Linked DNA regions of Homo sapiens. The protein of the gene in region 2 purifies or fractionates together with the protein of the main gene of each other region. This does not show direct contact. Each region holds a gene or a part of one and is shown on either strand. Other genes may lie near its edges.

Region 1 (5,313 bases), on a different chromosome or scaffold from region 2:
AAGTAAAGGCCACAAACAGCACACAGTTTCCTTCCAGAGAGTTGTCTCTTCTCCATTGTAGGTAGTGTGAGCAAGACCAAGGTAGCAAAATAGCCAAAGGGTAGGTTTGTATGTGACCCAAGATAAATAGCTCCGAACCTCTCCTGGCACTATGAAAGTGACGCAGAATGAAGACATAATCAGAAACAGGTGTTTGGAGTACATATATGAGGATACTGGTGAGGGTGCTAATTCATTTGCTTACTATGGATGCTGTAAAGTATGGTTAACCCATTCCTGCTACCCAGACCCCAGAGTTGCCTGGTGTCTCTTCATCTCCTTGACCTTCTTAGTTTGTTCTGTTAGCCTTCCAGTAATTTCTTTTTAATGCTTAAAATTTCTATAAGTGGTTACTTTTGCTTGCAACCAAAGAACCATAATTGATTTGGGTCCTACATGCTTATCTTCAGCCATGTTTTGTGAGGGATGGACCCCGTGAAAGAAAGCGTGTGGCAGCAACTGCTGAAAATAAGAAAAGCCAGTCCCTGGATCTTCACAGACAAAAGAAAACACAGGAGGTTGCTGTGGGTTTGAAGGACTTGGTGTATCTAACTTGAATGACAGCTTCACCTCAGTTGGCTCTCAGTTTCCCATGAAGCTAGAATTCCATCCCTATTTCTTCCATTGTCCCATGGATTGGCTGGCTTACGAGTCAGGAACTTCTCATAAGCAAAGCCTGAGGGCTCTGGGCAGATACTGGAAAAAAGACAAAGGCTCGGGTAAGGCTTACTTAACTTGTTAGCAATTCTGGTAGACAGGGAGTAGGTGGGCATTGGAATCACAGGCTAAAATGAAGCCTGGCTGGAATACCTAGGGACCATTTGCCATGATATTCACATTTACTGCAAAGTAATTATATATATGTCTATGTCCGTTTCCTAGGAACCATATTGTGAACTGGATGGATTTCTTTTATTTTTCTTTCCTTTTTTCAATGCTTATTTTCATTCAGAAAATTGGGAAATGAATTTTCTTTCATGATTTTAATCATTTCTTTGCCAGTGTTGTATACAACACATTCACGTAAAACTCTCAAAGGCGGCCATCTGAGCACTCTGCCAACCTGGCCCACCCACAGAGCTTTGCCTAGAAGCTTTGTCTTTTATAGAACTTAGCTCGAGCAATGATATCATTGACGAAGTCATTGTCTATGTCCGATGGGGTGGCAATCGCTTCAATTCCTGACTTAAAAGCTGAGAGACCACCTGAAATGAAACACAGAGAATTAGGCTCAAATATTAACTTTCAACAGAAATAAGCAATGAGCATTGCCAAGATGTTAGCTTTCCAGGCAAATCTTCCAAAGCAGGCAGTCCCAAATCCTCCTCCCTCTCCCTCCCTTTCTGAAAGGACGTGCTATCCCAAGAATCACTGGGAAAATTCCAGATTGCTTTCTTTCTCTTTTTCCAAAGTCTTTGGTTTTTCTTGTTGCAAAAATCAGATTTGCTTTTTTATGTAATCCAGGCCTGGCAGAACTAGACTCCCAGTACATCCTCTGCTGAAAATGCTTGTAACATTCTCTCATTTATTCAATAATTCACTCATCTATTCACTCACTCATTTATTCATTCAGGAAATGTTTTCAAGCACCTACTATGTGCCAGGAGAGGTGCCACACTGACTGCAAGGTACCCAAGACACACTTATTTCTTTGGGTATGTGTACATATGCATGTGTGTGCTATTTTACCCTAGAATTTTATCTCTAGTAGTTATGTATGTGTTTAACATAATTGTGCTCTGCTCTGATATCCAGAGAGGAAGATGCCTGGTCCTGATCCCTGCCTTCAAGGACCTTGAAGTAGAGACTAGAAACTGTTCTGATTAAGGCCGTTAGAGTGTGGAGGACATAACATTGGCCAATAGGAGGCAAACCTAATAGGAATTGATGTGGTTGGGTGTGAAGAGAGAAGGAACCAGAGAGCCTAAGAAAGCAATCTGGTTTTCAGGCTGGGATGACTGGCTATATTATGGTGCCTCCAAGACATGTAAAATGCAGAAGAAAGAGCAAATTTATAGTGGGAAGTTAGTGAGTTAATTCCATCTGGGAGATGCTGAACTTGAGGGGGCCTGTGGTCAGCCAAGCAGAGATTTCCACTTGGATATATAGCACCTGAAGTCCCGAAAATACTCACAGAGTAACATTGTTCAGACAATTTGGAAAGTTGTTGACAGTTTCTTATAACAGGAAAAAACCTATGAGAGGTAGGCAAACAGATAGATAGATAGATAGATAGATAGATAGATAGATAGATAGATAGATAAATTTTTTTTTGAGAGATGGGGTCTCACTCTGTCTCCCAGGCTGGAGTGCAGTGATGTAATCAATGCTCACTGCAGCCTTAACCTCCCAGGCACAAGCAATCCTCCTGGCTTAGCCTCCTGAGTAGCTGGGACTGTGTGTCACCATGCCCAGCTTTTTTTTTTTTTTTTTTTTTTTTTGTAGAGACAGGGTCTCACTATGTTTCAAGGTATCACTCAATAGCTCAGTAAGCAATGAATAAGAACCCCAACATTCTGCAGAAGAGGAAATGGAGGTTGAGGATGGAGGACCTCTCAAAGTAACTCAGTGGTTCAGGGAATGCAAATGCAGCCTCTAGACAGCTCCTCCCAGGGCCACTGCTGACCCCGTGGAAATGCTCCCAGGGAGTCTCGGGTCACACTGGCCTTCAGTGGTCTCATTCATTGCTCATTTAAACAAAGTACTCAGAATACAGCCTACCTTTGAGGTGCTGAGCAACACTCCACGTGGGGAATTTTTTCTGGATTGCCTTAATTCTCTCTGTTAGAATCCCAGTAGCCTGTGAAAGGTGCTCTTTGCTATCCCAGGCACCGACAGGGTGGTACGTTTGTTTATCAAGCTAGAAAATTCAGATAATAAAGTCAGCATCTGGATGAGGTAACACATTTTTTCTGCCATTCCTAATTTCCTCTCCTGGTATTCAAGTCATAGATACCGGCCTTTATCCCCAAAGAGTCAATTCTATTGTTCTTTCTTTCATATAGATGAGAGTCAGAGAAACAAAGTAAGGTTTGGGAGAAATGGACATGGTATAGTTTTAGCTAAACATTCTAATATACAAAAAAAAAATTTAAGTTGTTTTGAAACAAATAACACCCAAAGTCTACACATTTATAGTAATAAATAATTATCCAGCTAATTCAGATAAAAATTTGTTTCTAACTGGGAAGGCCAGAAGTCTGTATTTCTACAGACAATTTAAAATCGAGCCTGGAAGCAAATATCCAGATAATTTGGATCCCCTTCCTCCAGTTTACCCAAAGGAACAAGTTGTTTCAAGTAGGGCACAGTTATACCATGTTTTGATCCACATGGATGAAATTTACTACTTCATGAACCCCAAGAGGACACCTGTAACAATAATGCTATTTATAAGATTTTCTCAGTTTTAGTGTATTACATATTATTTATTGCAGAATGGTAGTTATGAAACTCCTAAAATACTTTTTAAAATATATCTAATAATGAATAAGCCTTGAATAAAATAAAAAGATGTGTTACAGAAATCCCAGATCAAATTATGCTGGAGTGGCCGGGCACAGTGGCTCAAGCTTGTAATCCCAGCACTTTGGGAGACTGAGGTGGGTGGATCACCTGAGGTCAGGAGTTCAAGACCAGCCTGGCCAACAAGGTGAAATCCCGTCTCTACTAAAAATACAAAAAATTAGCTGGGCATGGTGGCGTGTGCCTGTAATCCCAGCTACTCAGGAGGCTGAGGGAGGAGAATCACTTGAACCCGGGAGTGGAGGTTGCAGTGAGCCGAGATCACGCCATTGCACTCCAGCCTGGGTAACAAGAATGAAACTCCATCTCAAAAAAAAAAAAAAAATTATGCTGGAGTACCTGTAGCCAGATGCCAGGGTATTTTGGGGCTTGGAAGCACTGCAAATGGATTTCTAGTTCAGGTTGAGCTTCTGTGAGGAGGGATGCAGTGGGGCTGATAGAAAGTTTCTAGCTAAATACCTGCATCAAGCCAAATTTAAGTCCCCTGTGGTCCCAGCCGTCTTGCAGGACAGATCCGCCATGGCTTTCCCTGGAGATGATGGCTGCGATGACAGCAGGGTCCACGCAATGTCTCTGCCCGACTTCTTTGATCAGAGTCTGGTAAGGTTTTATGGCCCTCAAATCCATCTCAGCAAACATTTCAGAACCACGGATCCCTACGTCAATAGAAAAGAAACTGTTTTTCCGGGCATGGTAGTGTGTGCCTGAAGTCAGTTCCTGCTACACAGGAGGCTGAAACAGGAGGATTGCTTGAACCCAGGAGGAGTTCGAAACCAGCCTGGGCATCATAGTGAGAGCCCATCTCTAATTAAAAAAAAAAAAAAAAAGAATTTAAAGTTAAAAAAAGAAAAGAAACTGTTTCTTCTACTTCAGAAGAAAACCATTTTTAAAAATTTGCTAAGTTAGCCACAGCCTCTGATCACTGCTAATGACTTGGGACAACCATTCTAAGACATCCTTTTGATCTCTGACTGCAGAAACAAACAGATCCACAACCCCCAACAGGTGTCGCTTCTGCTCTGTTTCTCCTTCAAATTGCTCATGCCTGTAATCCCAGCACTTTGGGAGGCCGAGGTGGACAGATCACTTGAGGTCAGGAGCTCAAGACTAGCCTGGCCAACATGGTGAAACCCCATCTCTACTAAAAATACAAAAATTAGCTGGACTTGGTGGCAGGCACCTGTAACCCCAGCTACTCAGGAGACTGAGGCAGGAGAATCGCTTGAACCTGGGAGGTGGAGATTGTAGTGAGCCGAGATCATGCCATCGCACTCCAGCCTGGGTGACAAAGCAAGACTCTGTCATACACACAAAAAAAATTCTGCCACACTAGTGCACTGGGAAGCCTGTTGTACTAGGAGTTAGCCAATGCATGTTTTAGCCTGGCTCCGCCACTAGTTGGTTCTGTTCTATTGGGAAGTATTCCCCTCCTTGCTGAGTCTTTGGGCTCTGATTTGTAAATTTGAGGGGTTGGGGTCTGATGTGACCTTGTGGTTGCTGCCAGCTCCGACACTCTAAAACCAGGATAACGTGATGAAGACGACTTTGGAACAGTATTGCTTCAAATGGTCATGTGTAACATGAAGCAAACACAGCAGCACCACCCAAAAAACAAAGCCAGAGTCTAATATTTATTCAAGCAGTAGTTTCAATACATGGAAATAAACACAGCTGGACAAAGTTTGGAAAGAATGGGGGTGGAAAATGAAAAGAAGCTGGTTGTTAGATTGGTCAGGATTGTGGTTTTTG
Region 2 (9,206 bases):
TCATCCATGGACCAAGGATCTGGGACCACATGGGAGTCTGCCTCTCAGAAACATCAAAGACTTCACTGAGGTCGGGTGACACCTAGGGAGAAAAAAGACAACCAGATATGTGAGGATAGTGGAGAGTGGGGGTGAGGATGGGAGAGCTGGGACCCCTGTCCCCTTTAGCGTCAACTGCACCAGCCCCCTGATCATTAGGACACCAGGTCACTAGTTATCAGCTGGGACCATTGTTTCTGCTGCTTACCCTCTCTTCAGGTACAGTGTTACTTATTGCAAAGGGGCATGGAAGAACCATTTCCCCAATCCAGGTTAAAATTTTCCTCTCCTGACATTGCAAGTGTCCAGTTAGCACCTGAGATCTCTCAGCATCTCCTGCACCTCCATTTCCACTTCCTTTTTCACAATCTGAACAGGAATCCTTCTTTCTACTCATATCTTTCCTATATTCAGAGAGAGTGGACTGCTAGTCTTTGGGCTTGTGGTCTCTGAAGGAGCATAGATGAACTCTAACAGGGATGCAAGAACATTCATGTATGTGCAGAAAGAAAATATTAACTGCTGTAATATTTCATACTATATGAGAAAGAATTTGAGGTTTACTAATCTAAAGTATAAGAATTGACAAGAGTATACCATAAACTCATAAATATGCATATATAGTCAGTGCATGTTCAAAAAAATCTTTAGCAGGTAGGCATGTATAAAAATATTATTGAAGAATACTCAATTAAGAATAGGAATTCTAGGACCCAGTGATAGTCCAAGCAGCCTTCCCTGCCACTACCAGGTCCTCTACTCGCCAGGAAATGGTGTTCATCTTCCCACCACTTGTAATATAGCACTTCTATTGATGTGAACAATGGTTATCAGTCCTACCATGTTCCTGGAGAGTCCCCAACTTTGGGACAGGCACCTCTCCTATTTGGTAAGAAAAGCAAACTTACCTTGCTATTGGTCCAGCTTTTCAAGTGGTTGCTAAGCAACAGGGCTATGTAGATATTGGATTTCTGTCTTCATTATATTGTTGTGTCAAATGATCATCTTGGGCAACCTCATGCTCAGTAATTACAATATTATGTGACTCACTGGATTCCTGTTTGTATCTGCCTTTTTGTTCATGACTGAGTAGGTCTTGTTTGCTATCTGCAGATTGACCAGACTTTCCTTTTGCATTTTGGCCAGACCATTGATCTTGATTAGGATTTGGTGTCTGGATTTGAGACTTGCCTTCTACTAGCTTTTCAATTTGGAAAGAAATACTGCTTTGGGATACATCTTTCTGCGTGCTCTTTCCTCCATAGTTGAGTCGTCTTTCTTCTGTACTTGAAGATTGGTATGACATTTTATTTTCCTTATGGCCATGCTCTTGATCTTGACTAGGAATTGTTACCTGGTTTTGAGACTTGCCATGTATTTTCTCTTCAGTTTGGATAGAAATACTGCCTTTGGATACACCTTTCTGTACATCCTTTTCTCCACTGTTGAGACGTCTTTCTTCTGTACTCGAAGATTGGTATGATATTTTATTTTCCTTATGGCCATACTCTTGAGCTTGACTAGGAATTCTTACCTGGTTTTGAGACTTGCCATGTATTTGCTCTTCAGTTTGGATCGAAATACTGCCTTTGGATACACCTTTCTGGATGCCCTTTTCTCCACAGTTGAGATGTCTTTCTTCTGTACTTGAAGATTGGTATGATATTTTATTTTCCTTATGGCCATGCTCTTGATCTTGACTATGAATTGTTACCTGGTTTTGAGACTTGCCATGTATTTTCTCTTCAGTTTGGATAGAAATGCTGCCTTTGGATACATCTTTCTGTACACTCTTTTCTCCATGGTGAAGTTGTCTTTCTTCTGTACGTGAAGACGGGTATGATATTTTATGTGCCTTCCGGCCATGCTCTTGATCTTGACTGAGATTTTTTGTCTGGTGTTGATTCTTGTTATATACTAGGAGCTCATCTTGGGTAGTAAAAATGTCTTTGGGTCCATGTTGGAGTCTGTCTTGATGTGCAGGATGGAGTGAAGTTTGTAGTTTACTTGAATGTTCCTCTCTCACGTCAACCACATTTTGGTAATGCCCTTTATTTTGATGAGAATTTTTAGTCTCACGTTGTTGTTTGTTAACTACTAGTTCTTCAGTTTGGAGAACATAACTGCTTTGGGATCCACCTTGTGTTCTACCTTTTTGTGCACCAGAGGCTGAAGCTTGTTCTTTACTTAGTCCATGAACCCATAGCCTTTTTTCTGTGTTTGAACATTGACTGGATAATCCCTTTCCAGATGGGCTATTCCCCTGATCTTGAGAAGGATTTTGTGTCCCATGATGAGCTTGGCCTCCTTTATGATGTATAACTATCATGTGAAAATGACCTTTTGATTTATCATGGTCTCTGCCTTCTTGTTTATAATTGAGCAGTTGTTGACTTCCACCTAGGTGTTGTTTTGATTTTGTCGCCTTATGTAGGGCATTCAAATCATATTGCTGACTTTTTCGGGTCCAGTCATGATCATTGATGTCTACATGATATGTGTGTTGAATAGAAAAACTGCCTTTGGATTTAGTATGTTGTTGGTCTTTTTGTCCAAAATAGTGCTGGCCCTTTTGTCCATGTGGAAATTGGGAAGATCCGCTTGGCAATTGGCCTTTTGATCCACCTGGTAATTGATAATAGAAATGTATGCATTCATTATCTCCAAAGCTCTCTTGCAACTCTTACCTCCCACCTTTTCCCAACAAATTTCTGATATTTCCAAAAGCCTACAGCGTTGGGTGGAGAAAAATCAATTCTCATCAAGGAGAAGAATCTGTGCCTGAACAGGTTACTGTTTGCACCCTGAATATCCTTAGAGGCCATTTTTTTAAAGTAGCTTTCCCCAAGGCTTACCCTCTCCACTCACCTTTTTGTCCCATCACAGCTGCTTGCTTCTCCAAGATAAGGAGCAGGGAAAGGACAAAGAGGATGATGGACTTCATCTTGCTTGAAAAATCTTGTCTGAGAACTGAGCGGATCTCTTCATTTATATGTTCCTTGAGTGGGTGTGCTATGGGTGGAGCTGAAATGTCAAAAGGCACTGCCCTTTCATAGCTTATTAGTAAATGCCAGCTTCCTCACCCCTGCTCAGTGGGGGATAATGTCAAAGTCCCCAGGGACTTAGCATGGGGACATAATATCAAAGGCAATTTTTTTTACTTTCAGAATCCCCAGCAAAATTTTATCGGTCTTTGTATATCATCATGCCAGATCGCTTGCATTATACAGAAGAAATTCAGTCCGGAGTAGGAAGGAGACTAGCTTCAGGTTACAAAAGTAATTGGTGGCTGACAATGCCTTCATACTCTAAATGCGAGTTTCCTTTCTGATCCAATAACTTAAATACTAAATTTTAGGTATAACTCTATACTTTGTCTTGTTTTAAAGTAATCCTGAGACACATTCTGTTTTACTCGAGAAGGAGCAGTCATAGAAGTAGAATGATACAGAAGAGAAAGAAACTTCATGGAAGCCAAAGAAAAAAATTTCAACAAATAAATGAGGCATACCAATGTCAAATGTATCTGTGAAGTTCATCACAAAAAAGACTAACATGTGTCAAAAACTTTCTGATGTTACTCACTGCTAGTAATGTTAACGAGAGATGAATACAGTTGTGTTGGGTTGTCAGTTGAAGGATGGAGTCCAGCTGAAACCATCTCAAGAAGTCTGATTTCATGGTGGAATGAGAGGTGAGGCTGTATCTGGAGGGTGAGGTAAGCTCCAGAGATTTTTTGAAAGGATGAGAAAAATTTAACATGTTTTTATGATGATAGGAACAACTGTTGGAAAAAGAAGTAAGAATGTTGGTTTCCAAATTGGATTATTTGATGATATTTACCTAAACAAAAATGTATTTACCAAAATACATTTTTTAAATAAAAGCATTTCATACTTCTGTAATAAACTGCTGAACCCTCCAACAGGCTGTGAGGAATATTTGCCAACTTCAGTTCATTAAATAATGTATTGAGAGTGGACCTAAAGCTAAAATTTTTACCTTGGGTGGAAGCATAGGGTTTTTTTGCTTTTGTTTTGTTTTGTTGTGTTGTGTTGTTTTGTTTTGTTTTTTTGCAATTGTGAAAACTTCTTGAAAAATCCAAGGAAGGTTTTTTGTTTGTTTGTTTGTTTGTTTTGTTTTTTTTGTTTGTTTGTTTTTGAGACAGAGTCTCGCTCTGTCGCCCAGGCTGGAGTGCAGTGGCACCATCTCGGCTCACTGCAAGCTGTGCCTCCCAGGTTCATGCCATTCTCCTGCCTCAGCTTCCCAAGTAGCTGGGACTACAGGTGCCTGCCACCACGCCCGGCTAATTTTTTGTATTTTTAGTAGAGACGGGGTTTCACCGTGTTAGCCAGGATGGTCTCAATCTCCTGACCTCGTGATCCGCCCGCCTCAGCCTCCCAAACTGCTGGGATTACAGGCATGAGCCACTGCACCCGGCCAGTTTCTTTACTTTGACTGAAAAAGTCCTTGTTATGAGAAGACAACAGGAGAAGCAGCAACATTTGAACAGTGACCCTGTATGCATTCAGAACACTGTGGAGGGTAGTTCTGGAGAAAGGACGGCTTGGAAACTTATTTTCTATTATTCTCTCTTAAAATCCTAACCTTCCTGTAAGCAATGCTATATGGAAGGGGAGAGGGGAAAGGCCAACCATAGGAAAAAATGCTACTTATGCCATCAAACTTGAAGCATGTGAGCTATGTGGTTTCTCTATGAGCCATTCTGAGATCTTACCAGTTTTATCTGTTTGCCCTAAGGGCAGTAAGTATTTCCTTATGGCAGGGACCCCAAAAGAAAAGAGTAAAGTTTTCCTGAACACAAATTTATTGCTGTACCTGCTAATCACTATAATCTTCCTTACACTTCCCTTAAGGAAATACCAGGAACTGTTGTGTTCCAAGATTACCGGAACAAACAAGAGTCTGAAATATTAATCTTACTTATGGATCAAGAACAAAACTTCCAACTAATCTAGTGTCCAAAAGATACAGATAAAACAAAGGTGCACAAGATTTGCAAAAACAAAGCAGGAAAATGCAAACTAGGCACAACATGTGATTATGATACTCATATCATGATTGGATTTAATGAAATTTGAAAAAAAAGCATTTCAAAATTAAAAATAAATCTATTGATAAAGATGAAAGCAGAAATCGGTAATTTGGAAAGCATAAACATGGTATAGTGCTGCATACATCTTAGATGTGGTATCATGATTGGGAAAATATCAAATGATAAAAAATAAACAAGGAAAAAATAGTAGAATATTTTAAAGTTCACCAAGTAGGAGACAGGTCACTGAGCTTGACACAGTTTATATGCCCCTGTGGCAGCACAGTGGCTATGTGTCCACACTGAGTACCTGAGAAATAGCCCTGTAACACTCTCTCCCTCCAGAGACACATCCATGGCCTGCTCAGTGGCCCTATACTCCCAATAAGAGCTTGAGAAACAGACTCACAAGCTCCCCTGCTGGGCTTGACACCACGCTGGCCCAGCTGCCGAGAGCCCATTTCCCAAACCTGAGAAACAGCCCATGGGCCACCCCTGGTGGGCATACCCAAGCCAGCCAAGTAGTTATGTGGTCATGTCCCAGGTCTGAGAAACAGTCCTACAGATTGCCTCTGGTGGTCACACATGAAGGACAACCAAGAAGCTCCATGCCTACACCCTAGGCCTACAGAATATCTTCTTGGGCCACCCCTTACAGAAATGCTCAAAGCCTAGCCACTCAGCCATGCAGCTGTGTCAAGTGCCTGAGAAAAAGCCCTCTTTCCTCTCTCATTCCCTTCCTCTCGTAGGCCATCCAAGCAGCCTTACACCCACATCTTGGGCCTGAGAAAAAGCCCAGTAGACTGACCCTGGCAGACATGTCTTCAGACCAGTTGAGAAGCTGTACTTCCACGTCCTGAAACCAAGAAACAGCTTCACAGGCCACCCCTAGCCTGTAGTCACACTCACTGACTGAACAAACATGTGCCCATGCTTCCAGCCAGGATAACAGCACCCTGGCCCCAATACCATTGAGTCATACCTTAATTGAATTACCTACCACGTGGATGCACACACCCCTGACCTGAGAATTAGCGCTGGAACCACAGCACTGGCAAAGCCATGCCACTGTAGCAGCACACTCTCTCAACTAGGGCGCTGAGAAACTCTCAAGTGCCACAAGTGTGGATCATAGGTGAAGAAACTCTATGGAAACAATACTGCTACATACACCTGCAACAAAAACCAACAAACTCAAATGAACTAACACCTAAAGACCCATTCATAAAAATAAGTTTTCGCTTATAAAATCTACTCCATAAAATTGGAAGAGGCAACTTTTCCATCAGACGCATAAAATAATAGCAGAAAACTTCTTGCATCTTGGGAGAGAGATAGAAATCCAGGTCCAGGAAGCTATAAGAACCCTAAATAAATTCAACCTAAACGGGTTCTCTCCAAGGCACATTTTAATTGCATTGCTAAAAGTCAAAGACAAAGAAAGATTTTTAAAAGCAGCAAGAGAAAAATGTCAAGTCACATATAAGGTAACCCCCATCTGACTAACAGAGAATTTCTCGGGAGAAACCTTACAGGCCAGGAAAGAATGGCATAATATATTCAAATTACTAAAAGAGAAAACTGTCAGCTAAGAACATTACCCTCAGCAAAGCTATCCTTCAGAAATGAAGGAGAAATAAAATCGTTCAGAGAGAATAAAAATTAAGAGAGGAGGGTGGCAGAACAAGATGGTGGAATAGAAGGCTCCAATGATCCCCCCTGCCCCCACCAAGGTCACCAATTTAACAAGTATCTGCAGAGAAAGATCACCTTTATAAGAACCAAAAAATCAGGTGAGCACTCACAGTAACTGATTTTAACTTTATATCACTGAAAGAGGCGCTGAAGGGGTAGGAAAAACACTTGTATCACTGATGCCACTCCTCCTTCATCTCCCGGTTGCAGGTATGGGGCACAGAGCATTTCTGTGCATGGGGTGAGAGAAAGCACAGCAATTATCAGTTAAAAAGTGGCGGGAATGAAGTTAAAGTATAGAGTCTTTATTAGTTTTCTTTCTCTTGTTTGTTTATGGAAGCAGTGTTAAGTTGTTGTCAGTTTAAATAATGGGTTATAAGATAGTATTTGTGAAGTGTGAGTCTTCCAACTGTGTTCCTCTTAGTCAAGATTGTACGGCTATTTGGGATCCCTTGAAATTCCAAATGAACGTTAGAACCCACTTTTCCATTTCTACAAGAAAGCCATAAAATTTTTGATAAGAATTGCATTGATTCGGGCTGGGCACGGTGGCTGTAATCCTAGCACTTTGGGAGGCCAAGACGGGTGGATTGCCTGAGCTCAGAAGTTCGAGACCAGCTTGGGCAACACGGTGAAACCCCGTCTCTAGTAAAATACAAAAAATTAGCCAAGTATGACAGCGTGCGCCTGTAATCCCAGCTACTCAGGAGGCTGAGACAGGAGAATCGCTTGAGCCTGGGAGGCCGAGGTTGCAGTGAGCTGAGATCGTGCCACTGCACTCCAGCCTGGGCGACAGAGTCAGACTCCATCTCAAAAAAAAAAAAAAAAAAAGAAAAGAAAAAGAGAGAGAATTGCAGTGATTTGATTATCACTTTGGGTAGTGTGCCATCTTAACAATATTAAGTCCTCCATTTCACAAATAAAGGATCTACATCCATTTATTTAGGTCTTTACTTTCTTGGGGAAGTGTTTTGTAGCCTTTAGTGTATAAGATTTACATGTCATGGGTAATTTATATTTCTAAGCATTTTGGTTTTTTTGACATTCTAAATAGAATTGTTTACTGAATTTTAATTTTGAATTTTTCATCATCAATGTATAGAAATACGACCAATTGTTATCTTTTAATCATGTATTCTGCAACATTGGTGATTTCATTTATTAGGTTCCATGGTTTCTTAGTTGATGCTTTGGAATTTTTTGCATATGTATTGTCTGCTAATGAAGGTAGTTTTCCCTGTTCCTTTATTTTTTTAATTTTATTTTTCTATAAGTTATTGGGGTACAGGTGGTATTTGGTTACATGAGTAAGTTCTTTAGTGGAGATTTGTAAGAACCTGGTGCACCCATCACCTGAGCAGTATACACTGCACCATATTTGTTGTCTTTTATCTTTTATCCCCCGCCCCCCTCCCACTCTTCCCCCCAAGTCCCCAAAGTCCACTTTATCATTCTTATTCCTTTGCGTCCTCATAGGTTAGCTCCCACATATCAGTGAGAATGTATGATGTTTAACTTTCCATTCCTGAGTTACTTCACTTGGAATAATCATCTCTAATCTCATCCAGGTCATTGCAAATGCTGTTAATTCATTCCTTTTTATGGCTGAGTAGTATTCCATCATATATACATATATGGGCATCATGGTGAGAGAGAGATCTATATACATATATATATAAAACAGGTTCTCTCCAAGGCACATTTTAATTGCATTGCTGAAAGTCAAAGACAAAGAAAGATTATATATATATATATGAAACACTGATATATATATAAAACATATATATATAAAACTCATATATATATATATATATATATATATATATGTCAGAGTTTCTTTATCTACTCATTGATTGATAGGCATTTGGATTGGTTCCAGGATTTTGCTATTGTGAATTGTGCTGCTATAAACATGGATGTGCAAGTATCTTTTTTGAATAATGACTTCTTTTCCTCCGGGTGGTTACCCAGTAGTGGGATTGCTAGATCATACGGTAGTTCTACTTTTAGTTCTTTAAGGAATCTCCACACCGTTTTCCATAGCAGCTGTACTAGTTTACATTCCCACCAGCAGTGTAGAAGTGTTCCCTGATTGCCGCATCCACACCAACATCTACGGTTTTTCGATTCTTTGAATATGGCCATTCTTATAGGAGTAAGGTGGTATTGCATTGTGGTTTTGATTTGCATTTCCCTGATCATTAGTGATGTTGAGCATTTTTTCATATGTTTGTTGGCCATTTGTATATCTTCTTCTTCTTTTTTTTTTTTTTTTTTTTTTTGAGACGGAGTCTTTGTCTTTCACCCAGGCTGGAGTGCAGTGGCGCGATCTCGGCTCACTTCAAGCTCCGCCTCCCGGGTCCACGCCATTCTCCTGCCTCAGCACTCCCCCCCCACCGCCTCCCGACCAGCTGGG
Region 3 (7,747 bases), on a different chromosome or scaffold from region 2:
GACTGCTGCAGTGGCCCTACTCAAGCAGGATTTGTGTGAATCTGCAGCCCAAGGTCAGGGTTAGAGAAATACATTTTGAATTTGTTTGCATAAAAATGGTTTTCCGATCATAAGGATGGATAAAATAAACTATGGAGTGGCTGGTAACACATTACCACAAACTTGTTGGCACACATTTCTTCTCTTACAGTTCTGGACCTCTGAAGTCCAAAATCAGTTTCAAGATATCTGCAAGGCCAACCTCTCTCTGGAGGCTCTAGAGGAAAATCCTTTCCCTTACCTTTCCCAGCTTCTGGAGATGCATTCCTTGCATTCCCTGGCCCATGGCCCTTTCCTCCATCTCCAAAGCCAGCAGCATGGCATCTTGTCTTGGTTGTCATATTGCCTTCTTCTGTAGCCAAATCTCCCACTGCCTCTCTTTCATAAGGACACTCATGATTACATATAGGGCCATTATGGATAATCCAGTATAAATTTCCTATCTTCAAGATCCTTAATCATACCTGCAAAGTCCCTTTTGCCACATAGGGTGACATTCACAGGTTCAGGGATTAGGACATGACATCTTTGGGGCAATATTCAGCCTACCACAGAGGGTAAAAAGCGAAAAAGGACCCAGTGTCAAGTTCTGAGGCATGCTAACATTTAGGTCAGACAGAAGAGAAGGAACTAGAAAAAGAGATTGAGAAGGAATAGTCATTGAGGAAGAAGGAAGGCTGGCAGAGAGTCATGTTGCAGAGCCAAGGGACTAGAGACTCCGAGTGTTCAGAAGGAAGGAGCTGTTTCTTGTTGCTGAGAGGTTGAGTAAGATAAAGATGGAGAAGAAGCCACTGGAAATGGCATCATGATTGGTGATCTCTACCACAGCAGATTGGGGTGTGGGGGCTGGGCACGCTGGATTGAAAGCCATCAGAATGGGCTGAGGAATGCATGGGGTGAGGTAGTACAGGCACCAAGTGTGAATACCTCTATGTTCTGCTATCAAAGGAAGAGAGAAACTGTGTCGGAGGGGGTTATAGAGTTAAATAAGACAGCACATTGCTTTCTGTTTTTAATGGCGGACATTGCTGATGGTTTCATAGAAAGATGCAGGAGGAAAAATGGATACCCAAGGGAATGAAGTCTTGAGAAAGCAAGAAGCAATGAGACCCAAAGTCAAATGAAGAGACTGTCCTGCTAGGAGCAGGGACACGTGTATTGTAATAGGAAGAAATATGTGTGTAAGTGAAGGCAGAGTTGATTTTCTCAAGAGTGAGGCTGAGAACAAGGAGTGTAGTTATGTTTGAGGAAACAATGTTTGAGAAGTCATATTATTTGTGGAGATACACTATTTTGTTTCATTTCCTCTAACAAGTGTCATTGGCATAGTCATAGCCCCTAAATATCTAAAAATTAATTCCACTTTAACCACCTCCCCTAGTTCAGTGATAGATAATTTTAAGTGAAAATAACCATGCAAATAGCCACCTTATGTGACACTTTATTAAAATGATAAATGATGCAATCAAACTACTTTGTGGTTTTGTTTTCATTAAAAAAATAAACTGAAAAGAAAAAAAAACAACTGAACAACTTGTCTTACTAAGGTGGGTAATAAATAAGGCATTTACCATAATTATGAAATTATGCAGCCTACACATGTATGAAAACTGTAGAACATGTACTATGAAATCACATTGTCAATGGTTAGCAGATTGAAATTCAAAATCTTTTGTGTATGCTGTTTGATATGACATTCAAGCAAACTATGAACAGAACTATTAGCATTTGCATCCCCTTTTATGTTAAGACTATAGCTTCTATCCAATTACCCATTTCCCCTCATGAAGATGAAGATGAGACAGTGTGAAAGGTCCCTCCACCAGAATATTTCTTAGGTCCTTGTCACTCACTTTGACATTCAAATTACCCACTGCTAAGGCAGGCATACCAGTATCACTCATCTAGCATTGGCATTGGAATCTCAGGGCATCTCGCCCAGAGCTAAAAGCAATTTCTCAGTCTTGTAATAAACAATGTTACTTTTATCAATCTTACACCTACTGTCTAAGCATAGGTATGGACAGTGTAGATTGCCTCATAATGGGTTGAGTTTAGTTGTTCAATAATTTTTTTGCATTTGAACCTTGGAAATTATTTATTAATTTTCAAAGCTGGTTTAATGGTTTAAGAGAATCTGCCACCAAGATTATCTTTTTCTCACCTTTCCTTTTCCTTTTTTCTCCTTCCATGAAGAGGTATGTCTTTAAAAGCCATAGAATCTAGGATATTTAGAGGTCCCTTCTCCTATCTAGTCACCTACATTGATAAATTCCTCCTGATGTTTCTCATACAATGAGAATGTTATAATTTCATAGAAGATGAGGACTTGTAAAGATTCCCTCTAACTGAATGAAAAATCAGACTCCAAATTCAAGCCCAGACTTGCCTCCTGCAAAGCTTCCCTCCCTGATAGAAAGCTTGCTCTAAACTCTCAGGGAGTCCCTGATTCATAAAGGGAGAGCCTAACATGTTCTTTTACAGATTTCAGCCCTCCCACAGTCTGCAGTAGAAATACAATTTCTCTACTTGATTTTTGAAAGTACAAACATTGCCACAGAAACATATTGTAAAAACATGTAACATGAAGTGAGTTGTAAACATTCAAGTATTTCTACAGGTTTGAATAAAAACAGCAGCAATTTTTTAAAAAACGTATAACTTTGCTTTTTAAAACAAGCACTGCACAGGCTATTTATATCAAAGAGGAAAAGGCCAGGAGAGCTGGTTAAAGCCTCCAAAAAATTTATTTGGTCTAATTCTATCAGCAGACACTGACTTAGACATTGCCAAGAACTCCTAAGAAAGATATTTTCCACAGAACCAAGGGATGCATGTTATGCAACAATGTTGAAAAAGTAGTGCCCTTCCAGTTAAATGTCTGAGGCACTCTAACTTTTTCTAGAAGCTGTTCACCTAGAAACTTTGGTGGTTAGCTAAGAAAGCACTGTTCAAGAATTATAAAAGATGGAATATAAAGATATCTTTCAGAGTGTCTCCTATTCAGTGAATCCAACCAAAGAATAGACTAAGAGTTGACATTCTCAGCCATGCCCATTCTCCTTTTTCTGTGTTTTATACCTGAGGATTATTCGCAGCCCATTTAAAAATAAATAAATAAAAGCAAATTGCTTTGGATGATGTTTGAGAGGATCAGAAGGCTGATCCAGGATACAGTGTCAACCTTCCTTGGTGAGTGATGCCTTGGTCCAGTTTCCCTGTTGGCTGCCATCTGGCCAGCTGTGGGACATCACCCTTTCCTGTTGAGGGAGACCAGATGGTTCACAGAGCATCCGTGGGGAGAGCACAGGACTGGACTTGCTGGTAATCTGTCTGCTTCATTGCAGAGCAGAGTCTGAGGGAGAGAATCACCGTGGTGATTAGAAGGAGGAGTCCAATGATGAAAAGGATGACCAAGGCTGCCTTGGCTCCTGTTGGACCCAGATTCTTGCCAAAGAAATAGAGCTGCTCTTTGCCAGGTCGTTCTGTGAAAAAGATAAACTTGTCAGGCCCCTGACATTTTTGAGGGGTGAAATGTTGACTCATTTACATGGGGAGAGGGTATCATTACCGTTAGATGGCACCGTGGCTGGGTGAGATGCCACTCCAGGAGATGTGGTGGAGTAAGGAATCCTGTTGTCTGCACAAAGAAAACAAGTTCATTGTTTTATTAACAACAGAAGGGGATTCTTTTCATGACACTAGTCATTTCATTTCACCAGCGAGGACTTATCCCATCAGTATCTGCCAATCATTTCTGGATTCTTACTGTGCTACTTCATTCCCATGTACATGCTTTCCTGCCCCAGCTGTCTTTCCCACTTCTGCTCACCCACTGAGTCTATCTGGAGCATCATGGCCTCTGTGAAACTTTGGCTCATATCCTCCAACTGTTACCCATTCACTCCTACTGCTGCTATTAAGCCCTGTACTCTGCATTCTGCTACGGCACATAGCATACTTGATTATAGTTACATATTTACATATATGTCTCTCTTACTTGACTCTGAGCTTGTTGAGGGCTATATCTGGGTTTTTGTCATGCCTCCTGTTTTGGGGGTCTACAGGAAGCTCGGTGCCATCATCTGGCATCACTGACAGACAACCGTACCTATGTTACGAAGGACCGTGTAGGTTGTCTCCATGCCAGCATGGATGTGGTCAGACACATGACAGTGTAGCAGCCATGTCCCTGGGTGATCTGCAAACAGTTCAATGGTTTGGAATGTCCCAGGAAAGAGATCATACACATCTTCTCGGTAAGATTTATCTATCTGCAAAAACGTTTTAAAAAACAACAGCTAGTAGCCTTCTTTGCTCAGAACAGCAAGAACAGAAAGAAGAGCAAAAACAAATAAAACCCACAGTAAGCAAAAGGAAGGACATAAGAAAGAGCAGGAATCAAGAATAGAAGTACAATAGAGATAAGTCAAAGAAATCTAAAACTGATTCTTTGAACAGATCAATAAAATCAATAAATTCTGTAGTAGCCAGCTTCCATGATGGCCCACAATGATCCCCACCTCCTGGTATTCATAACCTTTGTGGTTCCTACCTACATTGTATAAGGGTTGGTATGCGAAATCAATAGCATGTGGAAGAAGTGCTGGCATTCCAATTCCAAGATTAGGTTATCATTACTTCTGTGTTAGATACTCTGTCACCCTCTTCTCTTGGATTACTCACTGGAGGAAGCCAGTTTTCATGTCTTATCCACATGATCAGGAGCTGAACCCTCTAGTTAACAACCATATCAGTAAGTTTGGAAGTGGATCCTCCAGCTCCAGTCAAACCTTTGAAAACTGCAGCTCCAGTCGACATCTTGATTGCCTCCTCATGAAAGATTCTGAATCAACCAACTAGTTAAACTAATCCCAAATTCCTGATCCAAGAATTACTCTAAGTTTAGAGTAATTTGTTATGCAGCAATAGATAACTAATACAAATCTCTGGACAGACTAACCAAGGGAAAAGGGAAAAGGACACATTAAAAATACTGAGAATGAAAGTGAGGACATCACTAAAATCTTACAAATATTAAAAAGGAAATACTGGACAAACACCTCTTATCCAAAAATTGTACAACTTAGATGGTATGAACAAATCCCTTAAAAGACACAAACTCCTGAAGATTACTCAAGAATACATTGATAACCTGGATAGCACTATATCTATTAAAGAAACTGTAATTGCTTCAAGATATTCCAACAAATTAAACTCCAGATGGCTTTATTGGCAAATTCTACCAAACATTTAATGGAGAAATAATACCAATTGTAAACAAACTGTTCTGGAAAATAGAAGAGGAAAGAACAGTTCCAACTCATTTTATGAGGCCAGCATTACTGTGATACCAAAACTAAACAAATGCTTTGTGAGGAAAAAAAGCTACAATCAATACTCCTCATGAACATAGATACCATCATCCATAACAAAATACTAGCAAATCAATTCCACAAAAAGGAATAATACATCATGACCAAGTAAGGTTTATCCTGGGAATGAAAAAGTGTTTAAAAACTCCACAATCAATAAATGTAATTCAGCAACAGATTAAAGAAGAAAAAGCATCTGATCATCTCAATAGATGCAGAAAAACCATTTGATAGAATTTAACATTTGTTGATGATCAAAACTCTGAGCAAATTTAGAAGGAAATTTCCTCAACCTCATAATGGGATCCACAAAAAAGCTGCAGCTAACTTTATATTCAAAGGTGAATGACTAAATGCTCCCCTTGTAAGATTAAGAACAAACTGAGGATGTCCACTTTCACCACTCATATTCAAAATTGCACTACAGGTCCTAGCCATTGCAGTAAGACAAAAGAAATAAAAGACATACAGATTGAAAATAAATGAAGCCATGTCTATTCACAGACAACATGATTGTCTGCATAGAAAATCCCCCTAAAATCTATAGGAAAACTATTGGAACTAAAGTGAGTTTAGCAAAGATGCAGGATGCAAGGTCAACATGCAAATATCAATTATATTTCTAAATATTGGCAATAAACAACTATAAATCAAAATAAAAACACTATCATTTACACTATTACCAAAGCCTTTTATATACTTAGTTATAAATAAATAAAACAAAGTATATGCAAGATCTCTATATTGAAAACTACAAAATGCTGATGAAAGAAATCAAAGAAGAGCTAAACGATAGATATACCATGTTCATGGATTGGAAGCCTCAATATTGTTATGTCAGTTCTGTCCAACCCATTGTATAGCTTCAGTGCAATACCAATCAAAATCCCAACAGGATTTTAAAAATCAAAATCAACAAATTATTTCTAAAATTTATCTGGGAAGGCAAACATCTAGAATAGCTAAAACAATCACCATCTGATTTTGAGACTTACTATAATACTAAAGTAATCAAAACATTGTGGCATTCAAGAAAGGGCAGAGTATAAACCAGTGTAACAGAAGAGACCGCCCAGACATAGACCCACATATATGTGGTCAATATGATTTTCACAAAAGTAAAGAGTCAATTCTGTGGGAAAAAAAGATGATCTTTTCAATGAGTGGTGATGGAACATTTGGACATATATATGAAAAAAAAATGAACCTTATTTCATATCTTGAACCACATATGAAAATTAAAATGTATCAGAGCCCTAAATCTAAAACTATACCACTTCTAAAAGAAAACAGAGACCTTTTTTGGGACCTTCAGTAAGGCCAAAATTTTTTATACATGACACCAAAAGTATGATCTATAAAAGAGAAAAAAGAAAAATTGTACTTCATTTTACTTCATCAAAAATTAAGAACTTCTATTTGAAAGCTGTTAAGAGAATGAAAAGATAAGCCACAAACTGGAAGCAAATATTTGTGAGTCACATCACTGAAAAAGGATTTGTATCCAGAATATATAAAGCCCTCAAACTCTACAATAAGGAAACAAGTAACCCAATTTTTTTAAATGGGCTTACAATTTGGACACTTCACCAAAGATTTACAGATGACAGATGGTAAACAAACACATGAAAAGATGCTCAATATCATTAGCCACTGGGAAAATGTAAATGAAAAACAATGAGATACCACTATATCCCCTCCCCAAGGAGGGAATGCCTAAGGGAAAAAAATGAAATAAAAACTAAAAATACCAACTGCATATGTGGATGTGCAACATATGGAGTTCTCGTATATTTCCTTGGAAATGCAAAATGATACTGCCTTTTTGGAAAACAGTTTGGTGGTTTCTTATGAAATCAAACATACACTTATCACATGGCTTAGCAATCCTACTTCTAGGTATTTTCTCAAGGAAAATGAAAACATATGTTCACACAAAAACATGTGCACAAATGTTTGTAATGACTTGATTTGTAATAAACAAACTTGAAAATAACTCAAATGTTCCTCAACAGGAGAATAGATAAACAAACTGCATTATATCCTTACAATGGAATACTACTCAACAGTCACAAGAAACAAACCACTGATACACATAACAAGATGGATACAATTTGAATGCCTATGTTAAATCAAACAAGCCAGATTCAAGATGCTACAACCTATGATTTCCACATAACCTTTCAAAAAAGGCAAAACTATAGAGACAGTGGTTGACAAGTGTTAAGTATGGGGAAGTAGTTGACACTAGAGGGTGCAATGGTAAAATTTGTGGGGGAAATAAAAGTATTCTATATTGTGATTGTTGTTCGTTACACTACTGTATGTGCTTA

Evidence for each region. Proteins that work in one complex are often made in the same cells at the same time.
Region 1: the proteins of SEMG2 (region 2) and LYG2 purify together in Homo sapiens (affinity purification with mass spectrometry; 2 studies listed by BioGRID and IntAct, with this or other methods). This does not show direct contact.
Region 3: the proteins of SEMG2 (region 2) and HEPHL1 purify together in Homo sapiens (affinity purification with mass spectrometry; 2 studies listed by BioGRID and IntAct, with this or other methods). This does not show direct contact.

Annotation. Positions count from the first base shown.
Region 1 is NC_000002.12:99,241,239-99,246,551, forward strand, and holds the end of LYG2 (lysozyme g-like protein 2 precursor), read right to left. Parts: intron 4,221-5,313; coding exon 4,024-4,220; intron 2,900-4,023; coding exon 2,761-2,899; intron 1,245-2,760; coding exon 1,126-1,244; 3' UTR 1,008-1,125; downstream 1-1,007. UniProt on the Homo sapiens protein: May act as a potent antibacterial protein that may play a role in the innate immunity.
Region 2 is NC_000020.11:45,215,167-45,224,372, reverse strand, and holds the start of SEMG2 (semenogelin-2 precursor), read right to left. Parts: upstream 3,001-9,206; 5' UTR 2,984-3,000; coding exon 2,908-2,983; intron 2,665-2,907; coding exon 992-2,664; 3' UTR 948-991; intron 83-947; 3' UTR 1-82. UniProt on the Homo sapiens protein: Participates in the formation of a gel matrix (sperm coagulum) entrapping the accessory gland secretions and ejaculated spermatozoa.
Region 3 is NC_000011.10:94,107,469-94,115,215, reverse strand, and holds the end of HEPHL1 (ferroxidase HEPHL1 precursor), read right to left. Parts: intron 4,314-7,747; coding exon 4,151-4,313; intron 3,680-4,150; coding exon 3,611-3,679; intron 3,525-3,610; coding exon 3,322-3,524; 3' UTR 1,008-3,321; downstream 1-1,007. UniProt on the Homo sapiens protein: Is a copper-binding glycoprotein with ferroxidase activity. It oxidizes Fe(2+) to Fe(3+) without releasing radical oxygen species. May be involved in the regulation of intracellular iron content.